2 separate regions of the Homo sapiens genome follow, and region 1 is linked to region 2. A link means that fine-mapping ties the variant in region 2 to the expression of a gene that starts in the linked region. Tissue or cell type: whole blood. Region 2 holds a variant in brackets; the other region holds the start of a gene. All regions are shown on one strand. Distances are between the middles of the regions.

Region 1 (2,500 bases), 37 kb after region 2:
AACCAAGAGAGGCAGCTCTGAGCGGGGCAGAGAGAGGCCCCAGAAGCCAGGAGCGGCAGAGGACAGAGGGAGGAGACCGAGTCCAGGGTATGGGAGAAGGGCCCGGTCCGGGCTGTGCGGGTCCCAGCTGGAGGTGGGGCCTCACCTGTGTGCCCGTCTGGCCTGCATGGGCCAGGGCAGTTCCCGGGAAGGGTGAGGGTCCTGCAGCTCTGTCTGGGTGACTTCTGTGAAGGCCTTTCTGCTCCTTCCTCCATCCTCCTCCTCCTCCTCCAGCGCCCCCCAAGGCAGCACCCCAGGGTCTCGGTACCGAAGGGTGGCAGCACTGGGCAGCTCGTTCAGCACAGAAGACAGCGATGGGCCTGGGGAGGAGCAGGGGGCTGGGAAGACCCGGGAGTCTGGGCCCTAATTCCTCCTCCCTCAGACCAGGAAACCAGGTCCCCGGCCCCTCCTCCCTCAGACCCAGGAGTCCAGGCCCCCGGCTCCTCCTCCCTCAGACCCAGGAGTCCAGGCCCCCGGCTCCTCCTCCCTCAGACCCAGGAGTCCAGGCCCCCGGCTCCTCCTCCCTCAGACCCAGGAGTCCAGGCCCCCGGCTCCTCCTCCCTCAGACCCAGGAGTCCAGGCCCCCGGCTCCTCCTCCCTCAGACCCAGGAGTCCAGGCCCCCGGCTCCTCCTCCCTCAGACCCAGGAGAACAGGCCCCCGGCGCCTCCTCCCTCAGACCCAGGAGTCCAGGCCCCCGGCTCCTCCTCCCTCAGACCCAGGAGAACAGGCCCCCGGCCCCTCCTCCCTCAGACCCAGGAGTCCAGGCCCCCGGCTCCTCCTCCCTCAGACATAGGAATCCAGGCACCCAGCCCCTCCTCCCTCAGACCAGGAAACCAGGTTCCCAGCCCCTCCTCCCTCAGGCCCAGGAGTCCGGGTGCCAGCCTCTACTTCCCCTGGACCCAGGGGTCCACAGCCCTCAACTCCATCCCCAAGCGTGGAACCCTCCTACTCCAGGGCAGTGGAGTCCAGGCTTTAACTTCCTTTTCCCTCTAGCTCAGGAGTGTGGGAACCCAGCCTCTCCTATTCCCAAGACACCCAAACTCCCAGCCCTTAGCCCTCCCCTCCTCCCAGACTAGCCTGGTTCTCCAGGCTCCTCCTCCTCAGACCCTGGAGTTCCAGCCTCCAGTTCCCTTCTCCCCCATAATATCAGGAAGTGGAACCTTCTCTCTTTAGCCCTCAGACTCAGGAGGCCAGGCCTCCCCTTTCCTCCTCCAGCAGGACTCCCACCTAGCCTGAAGGTCGGATGGATCTGAGCTTCTCCTGGCATTCCCTACCTCCTCTGGCCTCCCGGGGGGCCAGCCACTCCCTAGAGGAGCCCCAGGCTTCTGATTCCAAGGTCGGGTTTTCTTCCATGGCCCCAGGCTGGGCTGTCTCTAGTGGCCACCAGGCAGACACTGCCCCAGGTAAGGGAGGGGCCAGGGGCAGGTGTGTACCTGGCCAGCAGGTGGCCCGGAGGGAGTAAGGTACACTTCCTGTGGTTTCTCAGGGCCGCTGATGCGAAAGGTCTCCTGGGAGCTGAAGTCCCCGTGGTGCCCCGGGCCTCACAGTTTGGTTCCTGGGCTGGGCGGGGGGGCTGTACCTCACCCTGGGACTTGGTGGACTAAGTCCTTCCCACCGTTTATCACCCAGATACCTGCACGGACACGATGCCTTTGTGCAACACTTTATTGGGAAAGATTTACACACGGTGACCTGTCATAGGCCAAGCGATGAGAAGAGGGCGCCAGGAGTGCTGGGGTCCCGAGGTGGCTCAGATGGAAGCCATGGGACGGCCGTCCCCAGGCCCGCGCACCCGCACCTCAGTTTCCCCTTTGTGAAATGGGAAGCTTATGCTTCCTTCCAAGTCTGCAATATTGGTGCGATGAGCTAAAAGTGGAGCGAAAGACACAAGGAAGAGGCTTCCCACTCCCAGGACCTGCCCCCAAGCTCCGACCCCACATTGTGGATGCAAAGAAAGGGAATTTGCCCAAAACCCACTGCCCAGGGGCCCCTTCCGTTTTGGGGAAGTGCAGTGCTCTCTGGATACCCAGAAGCTGGAGCAGGGGCCAGTGACTCTTGTCTGGACAATACTTTGATTTTGTAGGAGTGGAGGTGGCCTCTGGGCAGAGGGCAGGGAGGACACCCCCGGGTCTGCTTCAGTTGCAGGCAGGGTATTTAGCTGGGGAAGAGGAAATTCTCTCCAGGACCCTCTCCAAGGTAAGGACTCTTTCTGGGGAGGAGACAGCAGCCTGGTTCACAGAATTCCCGGGACCAGCTGGCAGAGGGAGCGTCGTGACAGCTTACTCCTCCCGGAGCTTCTCCGGGGCAAGGCTGGTGGGCTGGGATGCTGCCTTCCGCCGGCTGGGGCTGCCCCCACCTAAAGCCAGCCCCAGCCCCAGGGCTGCCAGGGCCAGGAAGTGGATACAGAAGTAGATGGAGGCCCAGTACCGAAGGGTGTCGGCCAAGGAGAGCAGCACGAAG
Region 2 (2,753 bases):
AGAAAAGAAGACTCTGTAAGCGGCTCTTACGCTGGGCGCGGTGGCTCACGCCTGTAATCCCAGCTACTTGGGAGGCTGAGGTGGGAGAATGGCTTGAACCTGGGAGGCAGAGGTTGCAGTGAGCCGAGATGGCGCCCCTGCACTCCAGCCTGGGTGAGAGAGACACTGGCTCCCACCTCAAGATCGTTTTAGTTGGTCCAGTGTAAGCCTGGGTATCTGGACTTTTTTATTTTTTATTTTTATTTTTTGAGACGGCGTCTTGCTCTGTCACCCAGGCTGGAGTGCAATGGCGCAATCTCGGGTCACTGCAACCTCTGCCTCCCAGGTTCAAGTGATTCTCCCGCCTCAGCCTCCCGAGTAGCTGGGATTACAGGCACATGCCACCATGCCCAGCTAATTTTTGTATTTTTAGTAGAGACGGGGTTTCACCATGTTGGCCAGGCTGGTTTTGAACTCCCTACCTCAGGTGATCCGCCCACCTCGGCCTCTGAGAGTGCTGGGATTACAGGTGCAATGGCGCAATCTAGGCTCACTGCAGCCTCTGCCTCCCGGGTTCAAGTGATTCTCCCGGCCCGGCCTGGCCTCTAATTTAAAAAAAATTTTTTTTTTTTAAAGTTCCTCAGGTAGGCCAGGCGCAGTGGCTCACGCCTGTAATCCCAGCACTTTGGGAGACTGAGGCGAGCGGATCACCTGAGGTCAGGAGTTCGACACCAGCCTGGCCAACATGGTGAAACCCCGTCTCTACTAAAAATACAAAAATTAGTCGGGCGTGGTGGCGGGCGCCTGTAATCCCAGCTACTCGGGAGGCTGAGGCGGGAGAATCACTTGAACCCCGGGAGGCAGAGGCTGCAGTGAGCCTAGATTGTGCCACTGCTCTCCAGCCTGGGGGACAAGAGCAAGTCTTCGTCTCAACAACAACAACAATAACAACAAGTTCCTCAGGTGACTCTGATGTGCAGCCAAGTTGGAAAGTCATCGCTAGATCCGCGGTGTGCAAAGTGAACTGCGGACCGTGGACTGCGGCACTTGTTAGAAAAGCAGAATTTGCATTTTAACACATTCCTAGGTGATTCCGGAGATGTCTGAGAAGCGATACTTTGTCCAGGGGCCACAGTTTGAATAGCAAAGCTCTAGAACAATAACTCTAGGCTTCATTCCCGTTGTCTGTGTGTGGGCCTACGAATATGCATTTTCGCAAGCATTCCTCCTCCCCCTTGCCTCAGACCATTCTGATGCGGGTGGTGCTGAACGGCTCCATCCTCCTTCACGTTCACCTCTCCCTGGGATTTATCTTACTTTCCACCACCTAGACAGGAAGGGGCGAATCTGGCTTCCCATCTCGGTTGTGTGACCCTGGGCAAATGCCTCCCAGTTCGTGGAAGTCTCAGTGTCTA[G/GT]TTAAGTTTTCAATCACAAGTCATTCCTCACATTCATTCATCTATTCCTTTGACAAATGGTTACTGACTACTTCCTGCGTGCTAAGTGCTGGAGATGCAAAATCCAGACAGGGAAACCGAATAATTACGAAAATGACGGTAGACGTACAAAAATAAATCCTAACGAACAAGGCGCGCAGGAGCGCTCCGCCCGGGAGGGAGGTCAGGGAAGTTTTCTCTCCAAGAAGACAACAGAGCTGAGACCTGAAACGAGCAGGCATTAGGGAGCCACCCGTCTCCTCTGTACCTTCTGCAGCGTCCTCAACACACTAAGGAAGCGGAGACGCAGAGGAGAATGACTGTCCCACCATCTGGTCGCCTAACCAGGCAGGGGCAGGACAAAAACTCCATGCCTCACGCTTCCCAACCAATTCTGCTATGCACGGTGCCAGAGACTTAAAGCAGTGTCTCTGGTCCCTTTCTTCTTTCACTCAGCAAATAATGAATTTCAGAGATGTGCCAACATAGAGGCACTTGGAGAAAGACGAGGCAGCTGAGAGGGAAGCTGCTTACCTGGCCGGGACGCAACGGTTGCGACCAAGTCCCACTTCTGCCAGCTACATACACCCTCTTTCACACGCTCTACGAGCAGCTACCGCCCACTCGCCACGCTATTGGTCCAACTAGCATGAATGATAACTTTTAGGGCCAACGAAGAAAAAGGGGTGGACTTTCTTGCCCAGCTCCTCCCACTTGGCCCTGTGGCTGTTTTGATTGGCAGATGACTTCGGCTCGGCCCCCGCTTTAAAGGCACCTGTCTGTCTCCCATTAGGTACGCGGCCCCTAACGCCCACACTCCATGCCTTCCTCCGCTTTCCCCACCCACTTCCAGGACCAACCAATGACTTCAAGGCAGAATATGCCCCCGCAACCAATTAAAAAGAGCTCTAAACTTGACGGACGACTTCCCGCCCCTGGACTGTCGTAGCTCCTCCCCCAGACCAATTGTTTTAAGAGAGGGGGGCGGATACATCCAATCAGCACGACACAGGTCTCTTGATTGACGTTCGGGTCCTCGCGCTGGCGTGTTGTGCCCTGAGGCGGGAGGAGGAGGAGGAGCGGGGAGGAAAACCTGAGCCAATCCTAGCAGCCTGCGCGGGAGGCCAATCGAACGCCGCGCCTTGGAGCGATCACCCAATCCGCGAAAGGGGGCAGGGCGCATCCCTGCCAGGAACCAATAGAAAGCCTCCAAGGGTCAGGAGCGACGTTCAGCGGGAGCAATGACTGGCCTATATTCGGGACTCGGGGGCGGGTCGGCGCCAGAGACGAGAAGAGAGGAGGGGAGGCCTCCTCCGCCGCCGCCATCTTGGACCGGGCCCG

The links. PIP is the estimated chance that this variant, and not a neighbour inherited with it, causes the effect.
Region 1: TMC4 starts here. The variant in region 2 is fine-mapped to the expression of TMC4 in whole blood (Lepik 2017, PIP 0.95).

The regions. Positions count from the first base shown.
Region 1 is chr19:54,171,725-54,174,224 of GRCh38, forward strand. It overlaps TMC4 (transmembrane channel like 4), which reads right to left and starts at 1,436. Exons shown (of 15, transcript NM_144686.4): 1 at 1,315-1,436; 2 at 146-359. The coding sequence starts at 1,393. MBOAT7 (membrane bound acylglycerophosphatidylinositol O-acyltransferase MBOAT7) reads right to left here. Exons shown (of 8, transcript NM_024298.5): 8 at 1,691-2,500. The coding sequence ends at 2,320. RefSeq lists enhancers at 1,559-2,375, 2,376-2,500.
Region 2 is chr19:54,135,026-54,137,778 of GRCh38, forward strand. CNOT3 (CCR4-NOT transcription complex subunit 3) reads left to right here and starts at 2,737. Exons shown (of 18, transcript NM_014516.4): 1 at 2,737-2,753. The variant G/GT (reference allele first, on the strand shown) is at 1,395.